Regions from separate parts of the Homo sapiens genome. Here all the other regions are reported to be linked to region 3. The links are microRNA targets in miRTarBase. Many come from high-throughput screens and were not tested one by one. Region 3 holds a microRNA gene; each other region holds the end of a gene's coding sequence. Distances are between the middles of the regions.
The links. Region 3 holds the annotated microRNA hsa-miR-877-3p (UCCUCUUCUCCCUCCUCCCAG, at 1,604-1,624, shown strand). A microRNA usually pairs through its seed, bases 2 to 8, with sites in the 3' UTR of a target mRNA and lowers its output. Matches are read on the target gene's strand: a 7mer-m8 pairs with bases 2 to 8, a 7mer-A1 pairs with bases 2 to 7 and ends in A, and an 8mer does both.

Region 1: miRTarBase lists MDC1 as a target of hsa-miR-877-3p. The part of its 3' UTR that is shown has no 7-base or 8-base seed match.
Region 2: the mRNA of UQCRC1 is a reported target of hsa-miR-877-3p. The part of its 3' UTR that is shown has no 7-base or 8-base seed match.
Region 4: the mRNA of REEP2 is a reported target of hsa-miR-877-3p. Seed matches in the 3' UTR shown: 7mer-A1 at 754-760 and 7mer-m8 at 1,734-1,740.

The regions. Positions count from the first base shown.
Region 1 is chr6:30,697,937-30,701,242 of GRCh38, forward strand. MDC1 (mediator of DNA damage checkpoint 1) reads right to left here. Exons shown (of 15, transcript NM_014641.3): 15 at 1,871-2,696. The coding sequence ends at 2,529. Among named protein-coding and RNA genes, the nearest start is that of MDC1-AS1, 3.5 kb to the right of the region's middle. RefSeq lists an enhancer at 2,584-3,085.
Region 2 is chr3:48,596,301-48,599,655 of GRCh38, forward strand. UQCRC1 (ubiquinol-cytochrome c reductase core protein 1) reads right to left here. Exons shown (of 13, transcript NM_003365.3): 12 at 3,335-3,355; 13 at 2,702-2,892. The coding sequence ends at 2,828. Among named protein-coding and RNA genes, the nearest start is that of COL7A1, 2.6 kb to the left of the region's middle.
Region 3 is chr6:30,582,794-30,586,148 of GRCh38, forward strand. MIR877 (microRNA 877) reads left to right here and starts at 1,539; the gene lies at 1,539-1,624. It overlaps ABCF1 (ATP binding cassette subfamily F member 1), which reads left to right. Exons shown (of 25, transcript NM_001025091.2): 10 at 273-395; 11 at 815-915; 12 at 1,012-1,097; 13 at 1,399-1,538; 14 at 1,625-1,773; 15 at 2,467-2,550; 16 at 2,765-2,889; 17 at 3,086-3,198; 18 at 3,341-3,355.
Region 4 is chr5:138,445,170-138,448,524 of GRCh38, forward strand. REEP2 (receptor accessory protein 2) reads left to right here. Exons shown (of 8, transcript NM_001271803.2): 6 at 59-206; 7 at 299-429; 8 at 514-1,796. The coding sequence ends at 582. Among named protein-coding and RNA genes, the nearest start is that of REEP2, 7.8 kb to the left of the region's middle.

The sequences.
Region 1 (3,306 bases), 120 kb from region 3:
CGCCAGGCTGGAGTACAGTGGAGCAGTCTTGGCTCACTGCAACCTCCACCTCCCGGGTTCAAGCGATTCTCCTGCCTCAGCCTCCCGAGTAGCTAGGACTACAGGCGCCTGCCACCACGCCTAGCTAATTTTTTGTATTTTTAGTAGAGACGGGGTTTCTCCATGTTAGCCAGGATGGTCTCAATCTCCTGATCTTGTGATCTGCCCACCTTGGCCTCCCAAAGTGCTAGGATTACAGGGGTGAGCCACCACGCCTGGCCTTTTTTTTTTTAGATGGAGTCTTGTTCTGTTGCCCAGGCTGGAGTGCAGTGGCACGATCTCAGCTCACTGCAACCTCCACTTCCCGGGTTCCAGCAATTCTTCTGCCTCAGCCTCCCAAGTAGCTGGGATTGCAGGCACATGCCACCACGCCCGGCTAATTTTTGTATTTTAAGTAGAGACGGGATTTCACCATGTTGGCCAGGCTGGTCTCTAACTCCTGACCTCAGGTGATCCACCTGTCTTGACTTCCCAAAGTGCTGGGATTACAGGCATGAGCTGCCGTGACTGGCCTTTTATTTTTTTGAGACAAGGTCTCACTCTGTTGCCCAGGCTGAAGTGCAGTGGCTCGTGTCCACCCACTGCAGCCTTGACCTCCTGGGCTCAAACGATTTTCCTCTTAGCCTCCCAAGTAGCTGGGACCATAGGTGTGTGCCACCATGCCCAGTGAATTTTTGTATTTTTGGTAGAGACGAGGTTTTGTCATGTTGCCCGGCTGGCCGTGAACTTCTGAGCTCAAGTGATCTGCCAGCCTTGGCCTCCAAAGTGCTGGGATTACATGTGTGAGCCACTGTGCCCATCCATATGTTTAACTTTTTGAGGAACCATCAAACTGTTTACCACAGAGGCTGAACCATTTAACATTCCTACCAGCAATGTATAAGGATTCTAATTTCTCCACATCCTTGTAATCAACCAACTTTTAAAATTTAAATCTGGCTGGGCACGGTGGCTCAAGCCTGTAATCCCAGCACTTTTGGAGGCTGAGGTGGGTGGCTCACTTGAGGTCACGAGTTAGAGACCAGCTTGGGCAACATGACAAAACCTCGTCTCTACCAAAAATACAAAATTCATCGGGCATGGTTGCACACACCTATGGTCCCAGCTACTTGGGAGGCTGAGAGGAAAATCGTTTGAGCCCAGGAGGTCAAGGCTGCAGTAAGCCGACATCGAGCCACTGCACTTCAGCCTGGGCAACAGAGTGACACCTTGACTCAAAAAGATAAAAGGCCAGTCATGGCGGCTCATGCCTGTTATCCCAGCACTTTGGGAAGTCAAGACAGGTGGATCACCTGAGGTCAGGAGTTCGAGACCAGCATGGCCAACATGGTGAAACCCCGTCTCTACTACAAATACAAAAATTAGCCGGGTGTGGTGGCATGTGCCTGTAATCCCAGCTACTCGGGAGGCTGAGGTGGGTGGATCACTTGAGGTCAGAAGTTAGAGACCAGCCTGGGCAACATGACAAAACCTCATCTCTACCAAAAATACAAAAATTTAGTAGAGCCCCGTCTCTACTAAACAATAAAAAAAAGAAAATTAGCCAGGCATGGTGGTGTGTGCCTGCAGTCCTAGCTACTCAGGAGGCTGAGGTGGGACTATTGCTTGAACTGGGAGGTGGAGGTTGCAGTGAGCCAAGATGGTGCCACTGCACTCCAGCCTAGGTGACAGAGATGAGACCCTGTCTCAAGAAAAAAAAAAAAATCTTAAGAAATGTCATACAAATTGTCCTAAATAGAAGATAATGATGAATTAAATACAAGTCTATGACTTTTTTTTTTTTAAGTTTGTGTCTTGAGACCTAGACATTTTAAAAAACTACACTACACCATAAGGCACAGAGTGAATATTTATTTATCACAGAGGTCAAGCCGAAGCTCTAATTTTATAAATCCTGGAAAAGCTGGCCAGAAAAGTACAGAGACTTGCCCAAAGTCAAAGCTAAAGATGCTTCCAGAGGCCAGGAGAGAAGAAAATGTTTTAGTAGCACTCCATAACTGGACCCTCAAATCTACTCACTCCAAGCATCCCTTCAAGTTCCTGACCCCAAAGTAAGAATCTCAGTAAGAAAAAAATAGAGATGGTTTCCAAATAGGAGGTAGGACACCATGAGTGGCATCGAGCAATAACTGCAACAGTCTGGCTAAAGATAGCTGCCACTTATGACATCTGAGCATGAAACTAGCTAATTTTAAAATGGCCATTTAATACATGCATGTAAGAAATCTTGTATCCCCTAAATCTATACAAATAAAAAACTATAAATACAAATAAAATAAAATGGCCATTAAAAAAACAAACAAACAAACAAAAAACAACCTGTGGCTTCCAAATCCCTTATCTTTTCATTTATTCATAAAGATTTCTGGTCCCACCCATGTTCCAGGACAAGTTGTATCAATATACCCCAATCCTTTCTAACGCCCTGAGTTCTTTCTTCCACATATCTTCTAATTCGTGGTCTGGGAGGGAAAAGGGTAGTGGAGTTCTCAGGTGGATGACATCTCCAAAGGGGAGAGGACAAAGGCCTCTGGCTTGGCTTCCTGCTTCAGCACTCCAGTCAGCAGGAACTCAGGCGAGAGGAGGGGCAGCCCAACCCGTAGTGGAATGGAGCAATGAGGGAAGTCCTGAGGGCATGTGATCACAACTCTCTGAGGCTGGGGAAGACAGAGCAAAGGCAAAATCAGGTGAAAAAGAATCCTAGAAATGGGTTCAGGACCCACTAACCAGTCTTACCATCACTAAAATAATACCTCCTAATATGAAGCCAAGTGAAGCACACCGCATACTGTCTATGAAATACTCTTGCTAGGCCGGGCGCAGTGGCTCATGCCTGTAATTACACAGCACTTTGGGAGGCTGAGGCGGGTGGATCACGAGGTCAGGAGATCAAGACCACGGTGAAACCCTGTCTCTACTAAAAATACAAAAAAAAAAAAAAAAAAAAATTAGCCGGGCGCGCTGACGGGTGCCTGTCGTCCCAGCTACTCGGGAGGCTGGGGCAGGAGAATGGCGTGAAAACCCAGGAGGCGGAGCTTGCAGTGAGCCGAGATCGCGCCACTGCACTCCAGCCTGGGCTACAGAGCAAGACTCCATCTCAAAAGAAAAAAAAAAAGAAAAAAAAAAAAGAAATACTCTTGCTAGAGGCCAGGCACAGTGGCTCACGCCTATAATCCCAGCACTTTGGGAGGCCGAGGTGGGTGGATCACGAGGTCAAGAGATCGAGACCATCCTGGCCAACATGGTGAAACCCCGTCTTTAGTAAAA
Region 2 (3,355 bases), not on the chromosome of region 3:
CTGTGGACAGTCCTCCAACACACACCACGCCAGGGCCACTGTCCGAAGGAGGTGGGGCTCTGTATATGCATATCTCTCCATTAGATGGGTGACACTAAGGCAGAGAGGCACTGCTAAGAAGGGCAGGCCCCCATCTGGGTCCTGCTCCCCCTTTTTTTCCTGCTAATCCTGAATAACTCTGGGCAGCCCAGAAAGCACATCTATACTCACCAAGGCTGCTGGGCCCCTTCTAATATGCCCGGCCCCACAGCCTCCCCTGGGATCCACAGGGAGATATGGGGACAGCACTGGCTGGACTCCTCCACAGCCCGAGGACTCTGGTGTGGCCAGAGCTGGAGGCAGTGAAGACCATCCATGCTGCCTGCTTTCCTATTGCCCAAGGAAGGCTGGGGCTCTATCCCTTATTACTGACCCCCCAAACTATCCTGGGGCATAGTGCTATGACCTTATTCCAAGGTCAGGGTCTCCTCAGCCATGTCCCAGGACCCCCCATCCCTGCAAGGTGTGCTCCAGGTGGGGGGCTGCAGAGAACCAGGTATGTTATCACACAGGCAGCCCCTTCCCCCTAAGACTGTCACCTCCTCCCGTGCAGCCAGGGCGGGCAAGAGCAGGCCAGTGGCATGGACAGTACGGTACAGACATATGTGCACACGTGGGCCAGTCTTAGGGGAGACAGGAGGCCCAGCTGGGAGGGTGGGTGCTCAGGCAAACCTCATCAGAATTGAGGTGCCTCCAAAAGAAAGGACAGGCTGCTGTGAGAGGGTCTCTCAAAGGGTGCTGGGAGAGGCTGTTGAGAAGGTAGGAGTAAGGTTGGAATGACTCCACGTCTGGAGCTTCTATGAGACTCACGAGCAGGAGTGTGGCCCTCTGAAGCCCCAGCTCTGGCCTCCTGGGAGGAACACAGCCTAGGGCACAGCCCGAGGCCAGTGCCTACCTGCAACCCCATCAGGGCGGTGGAGCCCCCAGAGCACATCCTTCTCCCTCCCAAGCTTTCCCTGAACATTTCCTTCCCTGGCCTCAGTCACTACCTCACCCCATCTGTTTCCAACCAGGGCCTCTTTATCAGGTCCCAGCCCCACACATCCCACTGTACCCTGGACACCACCAAACTCCTCACTGGACTATGGAAGATTACCCTCCTCCAACCCACTCGTGCCTCCGCGTCTCCCAGCCCTGCTGGGAATGTAGTCCTCTTTGTGTCCCCTACAGCTGGCTCCAGTTCGTGTGGCCATGACCTCTGTTCTGCCACAGCACAGCTCACCAAGACTGATACAGAAATATGGCCTGAGAGTCCCCATGCTGAATCTCAACTCTGACCAAGTCACTTCTCTTCACAGTAACCTCCAACACACCTCCCCAGCATGGCTCCAGGGTAAAGACCAGAGTCCCTGGCTTGGTACGCAAGGTCCCTTAGAACCAGACCACTCCCAGCAACTCAAGCTCTCGTGTCCAGCACACCTGTAGCCTCTAAGGGCCAGGCTGGGCTTAGAAATGAAGCCCCATCCTCCAGGAGCTCAAACTTGACAACAGACTTGGCACTTGTTCCCCTGCCTGGGTGTTGCACCTCCATGAGCACCCAGGGTTGGGCCTGTCAGGGTTCTGCGCTGCCCAGCATCTTCTCTCCAGCCGTTCACAAAGTAGAATGATCTGCGCAATGCCCCAGTCCCGGGCCGTAGAAGGTGCTTAACAAATGTCTCCGAATTGGCAACGTATGGCAACCAATGGTGAGGGAAAGGCAGTGGGGCAGGGTGATAGTGATACAAGGGTTCCTTGGGCTACTTCCAAGCTACGATGCTGGGGGGACTTCTGAACAGCCATCTTCTAAAAGACCTTGTCCCAGCACCCTGCTTGTGACTGCCAGGCAGCGACTTCCTCAAAGGAAAATTGGGCCCCTCGCTTTCAACTTCCCCCTGGGATCCCAGAGAACCTGACTGTGGAAGCACTGGGGGGTGCAGGAGGAGCAGCCTACCTGCGCACCCACCATGGGGACCAGAGCCAAAAGAGATAACAGAGGGACTAGGTAGCTAAGAGCTGTACCAGGTCCTGGCTGCCTCAGGAAAATGGGGAGGGGATTGTCAGGCCAGCAGCTCTGGACTTGCCTGGGACAAATGTAGTAGAGGGAGGGGGCTCGGGCCCCACTGAGCTCAGGGCTATTCTTGGAGCCTGAGTCAGCGGAGGCAAAGGATTCCTGCCCTGCTTGTCCAGGCAGCAGTTAGAAACCAAATGAGAACACTATGCCCCAGGCTATCCTCCTCCCAGAATGCAGAGTAAACACACACAAGAGGCATCCTTGGAGACACCCCTTGGCCCCTTCTGGTCCACCAGGGACCACCAGGGGGTGACTTGGCACAAGGTCCACAGTGAGGGGTTTCCCACCTGAGCCTGCAGGGATTCCAGGCTGGGACTCCTACAGGGGCAAAGGCTGGGTTTACACTTCCTATGGACTCCCACAGCCCAATCTTGGGACCAGCTGGCTGAGGAACTCCCCTAAGTGGCTGAGTGGAAACATCTGGGCTCAGCTCCCTGTAGGCATCAAAGACTTCCGGCCTCAGCTGCAACCCCCACGCTTGCCCCTGGCTGAGGACACATCAGCCTGTGGGAAGGCAGGAGGATCCAGGAGCCACAGAACTAGAGGGAAGTCCTTGCTCCCCATCTACTGCCCCATGGACTCCATGCCAATGCCAAAAGAGGGATGACACACTTCTCAGCAGAGGATTTTATTGGTGGTCACCTGTGGCACAGGTTAGAGGAGCCGAAGTGCTGTGTTTGTGGTGGGGGGGGGACCACAAACCCCGGCCCTGCCCTCTTGCTTACATAGGCTTCCCGCCTAGAAGCGCAGCCAGAACATGCCGCTACGGATCCGGTTGTAGTCTGGGAGCTGCTCAATGGGGCCTGTGGGGATAGGGTGGAGCGTCAGGGTGGGGTACCTGGCCTGCACAGGGACACCTGGCCCTGTGCCGCACCCAGCTCGGAGATGCTGCCCAGAGCAGCACAAGACAGGCTTTGAGTGGAAAGAGAGGAGAGAACATTCCCCCAGGGGTGCTGAGCCTGTCCCTTCATGTTCTGGCCCTTGAAGCCCCACCCCACATGGAGGTGCCCGTTACCTGACGGGTGCAGGGTATTGATGAAGGCACCTTGGCAGGCAGTCAAGGAACTGCTGGGACAGGTTTTCTGAGCAAGAACTCCCTGGCAGCCAGGGGACTGGGGAGAGCTGCTTGGGGCCTTAACTGGCTGCTCTGTAAGCTGAGCAGCAGTGCGGGAGCAGAGGTGGAAGGGGAGGCCAAGAGAACGGCCTGAGGAAATAAACAAAGAGCAGACCCCCTAGGCCACTTACCATATCCAGCCACTGCTGGGC
Region 3 (3,355 bases):
AGTGATCCTCCCACCTCAGCCTCCCGAATAGCTGAGACTATGGGTGGCACCACCATGCCTGGCTAATTTTTGTATTTTTTGTAGAGACAGTATTTTAGCATGTTGGCCAGGCTGGTCTCAAACTCCTGAGCTCAAGAGATCCACCTACCTCAGCCTCCCAGAGTGCTGGGATTACAGGCGTGAGCCAGCATGCCCAGCCAGCATGGGCTGTTTCATGGTGATGGGAAACTGGTAGACTGTGGCTTCAAATGTAGTTTTTCCTACCTTCTCAGATGGAGTATGAGCGCCAAGTGGCTTCATTAAAAGCAGCCAATGCAGCTGAAAATGACTTCTCCGTGTCCCAGGCGGAGATGTCCTCCCGCCAAGCCATGTTAGAAAATGCATCTGACATCAAGGTAAGGTCTCAAGGGGCCCCTTCCAGTCCACTTACCTAGGGAAGAGCCAGTTCTCTCATCTTCCCTGAGTGGCTGTGGTGTGTGAATGGGTTAGTTCAGTGGGAAGAAAGATTGGAGGCATTTTCCACACCTTAGGTTCTGCCAACTTGAGCAAGAAGATAGAAAAACCAGTAGAAGTGGGGTCCACCCTTGGCAGAAAATAGTGTGGGACAGACTAGACTAGCTGAGGATGCATGGGGCTCCCATTACAGGCAGCGAACAGGGCGGGGACCGGCTGTGGGGAGAGGAAGGGGATTATGCTGGAGGTAGCGGTTTGTCAGAGGCTTCCCTGCAGGGAGAAAGTGGCCGCTCCTGTCCCAAAGGGAGAATTTTCATGTGATCATCCCTTCCCTCTGCCACCTCTTTCCTGATGGCTGCAGCTGGAGAAGTTCAGCATCTCCGCTCATGGCAAGGAGCTGTTCGTCAATGCAGACCTGTACATTGTAGCCGGCCGCCGCTACGGGCTGGTAGGACCCAATGGGTGAGAAGAGGAGGGAGCTGGAGGCAAAAAAGGGCCTGGAGGGAAAAGAAGAGATTTCTCAGTGGTGGCCAGGTCCTAATAGCTTTTATTCCCCAGCAAGGGCAAGACCACACTCCTCAAGCACATTGCCAACCGAGCCCTGAGCATCCCTCCCAACATTGATGTGTTGCTGTGTGAGCAGGGTGAGACCACTGGGGAGAAAAGGGGCTTGGTGGGGTGGGCAGTTGGGTAGAAAAGCCAGCCAGCCAAGAATAGAAGAAATTGTGGCTATGGAGTTGGAAGGGATGTGGAGGGAGACTGGAGACCGGGAAAGGGATGCTAAGGAAAGGAGGGGAGGGTCAATGAGGAACTTGAGAGTGTTTTATTTGGAACAAGTACAAAGAGCTGGGCAGGGTCAGGCAAAACAGAAATGTAATTGAAGGGAAAGAAAGATGAGACTCTTGGCTCTTGAGGCTGCCTGACTGTTCTCCCTCTGCCTCCCAGAGGTGGTAGCAGATGAGACACCAGCAGTCCAGGCTGTTCTTCGAGCTGACACCAAGCGATTGAAGCTGCTGGAAGAGGAGCGGCGGCTTCAGGGACAGCTGGAACAAGGGGATGACACAGCTGCTGAGAGGCTAGAGAAGGTAGAGGAGATGGCGCAGGGGACACGGGCAAAGACTTGGGGGTTCCTGGGACCCTCAGACGTGTGTCCTCTTCTCCCTCCTCCCAGGTGTATGAGGAATTGCGGGCCACTGGGGCGGCAGCTGCAGAGGCCAAAGCACGGCGGATCCTGGCTGGCCTGGGCTTTGACCCTGAAATGCAGAATCGACCCACACAGAAGTTCTCAGGGGGCTGGCGCATGCGTGTCTCCCTGGCCAGGTGGGCCATTCACCTCACTGCCCTCCCTTCCAGCCTCAGACCACCGGGGCCCTTTTCCTCTTTCCCTTCTCATTCTTCCAAGGCCAATAGGGAGGCTCAAGGCTTACCTCTCCCTCCTTACTATCTGTGTTGTGAGAACTTAGGGTCTTTCTCTATTTATCTCCCTACTTGGTGGTGAGTTCTCATCAACATACCCTGCAGCTGGGTGCAATGGGTCACGCCTGTAATCCCAGCACTTTGGAAGGCAGAGGCAGGAGGATTATCTTCAACCCAGGAGTTTGAGACCAGCCTGGGCAATATAGTGAGACTCTATCTTCACAAAAGGGGGAAGAAAACATATCCTAGCCTGGGCAACATAGGGAGACCCTGTCTCTACAAAAAATTTAAAGATCAGCTGGATATGGTGGCGCACGCTGTGGTCACAGCTACTCTGGAGGCTGAAGTAGAAGTATCACTTAGACCTGGGAGATTTAGACTACAGTGAGCCCTTATTGTGCCACTGCACGACAGCCTGGGCAACAGGGCGAGACCCTGTCTCAAAAAAATTAAACCGTATCCTGCCCGAGAACTTCTCTGAGGAGAGCTTGGGAAGGAGTGTTCATGGTCTCAGGCTCTATCTCCGAGTTTTCTCTGGGGTTGTCTGAGCAAGGATCTTTCTCTCCCTGACCCTGCCCTCTGCTACCCACCCTCTAGGGCACTGTTCATGGAGCCCACACTGCTGATGCTGGATGAGCCCACCAACCACCTGGACCTCAACGCTGTCATCTGGCTTAATAAGTGCGTTACGGCCTTTGCATCATTGGTTCCCATTCTGCACTTTCTTCCCCTTCCCTCCCTGCCCTGTTTTCCTTTAGCCCTTCTCCACTGTGCCTGTGAGTGGAGCTCTATTCAGACCCCCCTTTCCCTCCCAGCCCCCGTTGTCTGCCTGCTTCCTCTGAATTCTCTCTCACTTGACCACTGTGACACTTACACCCTGTTCTCTGAAACCCAGCTACCTCCAGGGCTGGCGGAAGACCTTGCTGATCGTCTCCCATGACCAGGGCTTCTTGGATGATGTCTGCACTGATATCATCCACCTCGATGCCCAGCGGCTCCACTACTATAGGGGCAATTACAGTAAGTAGGATTGTGTGTGGATGCAGGGAAGAGATAGAACCTCGAAAAGAGGCCTGAGTGGGAGGGCCTATTTAGATAAACTGAATCCTGTCAGAATTCCAGACAGTGATGCCTACCCCATCACCACCAGTCCCTGGTTGTCCCTTTGCTGGGAAGAGGAGCAACCACTGATGCCTGGTCCCCTCTTCTGCCCCAGTGACCTTCAAAAAGATGTACCAGCAGAAGCAGAAAGAACTGCTGAAACAGTATGAGAAGCAAGAGAAAAAGCTGAAGGAGCTGAAGGCAGGCGGGAAGTCCACCAAGCAGGCGGTGAGCACCTGAGGGACTTCTGGGCTGGGGGCCACTGTTCTCTCCTGGCAGTGGAGGAAGAAGGAGACTCTGGAACGCTGGCCTACATTTCAAGGACTGCCGCGCAGGGCTCAGGTTTCTCTTTTTTCCTCTTCCTCTCCAGGAAAAACAAACGAAG
Region 4 (3,355 bases), not on the chromosome of region 3:
CTCTATCTCCACCCCGCCCCTTCCCCCCGGCTCTCCCGGTGCGTGGTGGTGACCCTAGGGCCAGGGGGTGCTGTCAGAGAAGCTCCGCAGCTTCAGCATGCAGGACCTGACCCTGATCCGGGACGAGGACGCACTGCCCCTGCAGAGGCCTGACGGCCGCCTCCGACCCAGCCCTGGCAGCCTCCTGGACACCATCGAGGACTTAGGTACAGGCAGGGCCCGGGGTTGGGGTGGGGCCCCAAGGGCAAGGAGTCCAGATGGGAAAGATTCCCCCACCTCCTTTTCTCCCTGCACCCAGGAGATGACCCTGCCCTGAGTCTAAGGTCCAGCACAAACCCGGCAGATTCCCGGACAGAGGCTTCTGAGGATGACATGGGAGACAAAGCTCCCAAGAGGGCCAAACCCATCAAAAAAGCGCCCAAAGCTGAGGTGAGGGCACTGGCCAGAGCTTGGGGAAACAGGCAGGGGGTGGCGGCTCCAGGCTGAGCCCCATCTTCCTCCTTCTTTCCACAGCCACTGGCTTCCAAGACACTGAAGACCCGGCCCAAGAAGAAGACCTCTGGCGGGGGCGACTCAGCTTGAGCCCCTCCACCCCCGCAGGCTGCAGAGCAAGGATGAAGCCTCAGGAGGGGCCTCAGACCCAGCCCCTGCTCCACACTGTGCCAGTAGCCTAGGTGTCTCAGGCCCCTGGGCCCCGCAGATGGCCATTTCCGGTGCCTGCCCAGTGGCCACTCTTCTGGAAGGGGCTTGGAAAAGAGGAAGGAGGCCCAGCTGTGGGGGTTGAGGGTAGAGGGTGGACCAGAGGCTGAGGACTGAGCCACCCAAGGAGGTGGGGACTGCTCGGCCTCCACCGCTGTTCCGCTGCAGCCCCGCCCTGCCCCACCCACCCAGTGCCTTGCTGAAGCCCATAGCAATCCGCTTCTCAGAGGTCCTGTCGTGTTTCCACTGCTCGCCTTGGTTTGGGAGCAGGGAGGGGGAAGTCCTAGCCCAGATGGACCAAGGACGGGCCTGAAGGCACATGGGGGAAAGGGAGCACACGGGGAGGACGTTGGGGACCCTGGGTGGGGCCTCCAGGTGCAGCTGTGGATGGAAGACAGGGATTGGCCTGTGCTTCAGCGACCAGGATGGCCAGGCCAGAGCTGCAGCTGGGGGCTCTTTTCCTGGTCATTGGGTGGGGCTGAGTGCCACATGTTCCCACATTAAAAAGGGGGGTCCAGGGCTGTGTGAGTGTGTCTTTCTGGGTCTAGGGCTCGGGGTAGTTTGGGTCAAGGACTGTCCCTCCAGCAGTCGCCTCCTCCCACCCTGAGCCCCACAGTCATCTGGCCCTTTCCCTGCTCAACCCTCCATCCTAGGCTCTGAGCCTCAGAGGACCCAGCCCATGAGAGAACGGGGATCTGGGGGGCCTCTCACCTGCTCCTATGACCTTGCTCCCTTTTAGGTCACCCCATTGCCACCGTGCCCCTGGGCTGGACTCCCGTGCTCCTCAGGGCCCACCCCTGCTCTGTCTGGTACAGGCCCCTGCTGAGTGGGCCCCTCTCCTCTGCCCCTGGGGTCCATCCCCTCTTGCCCAGGGTCCCCATCCTGTACCAAGCAGACTGGGCCCTAAGACCCCTGGCAGAACCCAGCCTCTGCTCACACCCGCCCCAGCTTCTGCCACGGCTTCAGTCAGGGCCAGGAGGAACACGTGAAGGAGAAAGAGAAATGCAGGAGCCGCGGGGCTCCCGGTTCCTTGGGAAGAGGGTGCCCATTGGACCTTTGGCACTGGATGAGCCAATAAACCAAACTCTGGCACCTCATTTATTTTGGCCTCTGTGCTTTGTTCTTGCCACACCAGCTGACAGGTGGGAAGGACCTCAAGTGAGAAGCAGGGTTCAGCTGGGGGAGTGGGGAGGCCAGCCTGTGACTGACAGGAGCTCTGGTGCCCAGCTAAGAGATGGGCTTGAGGGGGCTCAGTCTGGGAAAATGGTTTTGGGACTCAAGATAAAACCAGAGGCCTAGGCTGGGCGCAGTGGCTCATGCCTGTAATCCCAGCACTTTGGGAGGCCGAGGCGGGCAGATCACGAGGTCAGGAGATCAAGACCATCCTGGCCAACATGGTGAAACCCCATCTCTACTAAAAATACAAAAATTAACCAGGCATGGTGGCGCGTGCCTGTAGTCCCAGCTACTTGGGAGGCTGAGGCAGGGGAATTGCTTGAACGTGGGAGGCAGAGATTGCAGTGAGCCAAGATCGTGCCACTGCACTCCAGCCTGGTGACAGAATAAGACTCCGTCTCAAACAAAACAAAAAACAAACAAAAACCACAGAGGCTTAGCTGGGTGTGGTGGCTCACACCTGTAATCCCAGCACTTTGGGAGGTGGAGGCAGGAGGATCCTTGAACTCAGGATTTTGAGACCAGCCTGGGCAACATGCGAAAATCACATCTGTATTTTTTTTTAGGGGGGGAAACTGAGTATTGCCAAGGCTGGAGTGCAGTGGCGCGATCTTGGCTCACGGCAACCTCTGCCTACTGGGTTCAAATGATTCTCATGCCTCAGCCTCCCAAGTAGCTGGAATTACAGTCATGCGCCACCATGCCCAGCTAATTTTTGTATTTTTAGTAGAGACTGGGTTTCACCATGTTGGCCAGGCTGGTCTCGAACTCCTGACCTCAAGTGATCTGCCCGCCTCGGCCTCCCAAAGTGCTGGGATTACAGGCGTGAGACACCGCGCCCAGCCATGTCTCTATTTAAAAAATAATAATAATAAATAAAAACCAGAGGCCTAAGAAGGGCCAGGGGCCCCAACCCCAAGGACTGTCTTTTCCCTCAGAATCTTACCCCAAGTCTTGAGTGGACCTTCTGGTATCCAACAGAAAGTGCTAGGTGTAGGCTCTGGGGGACAAAGATCCCAGTGAGGCCCCCAGGGGACAGAGGATAGGATATGGAGCTGTGGGGCAGGCCTCGGGGACTGTGCCTAGAAAGACCAAAGGGGGTTGAGCCAGAGAGGTTGAGCGAAGAAGCAGAGATGGGGAAGACAGGACAAGGGCTTGTGAAGAAACCAGCCCTGGGGACAGAGAGGGAACCAAGGGCTGAGACAAAGAGGCACAGCCTGTGTGGCACCAGGAAAGGCAGAGGTCCAGCCCTGACTACTGGGCTAGGTTGGAGGAAAGGAGGAGAAGGGAGCTGCAGGGCATGGGGTCCGAGCCCTGGGACGCAGAGCCAGAGCTCCAGGGGCCAAGAAGCACAACTGACTGGGGATGAGCCCCCGGGAAGCCGGAACCCAGGGGGAGGGAAAGGCTGGCAGAGGAGCAGAGGCAGGTACGGAGGAGAGACTAAGGAAAAGAGCCGTAAGGGAGGAAAAAGGGGATCAGA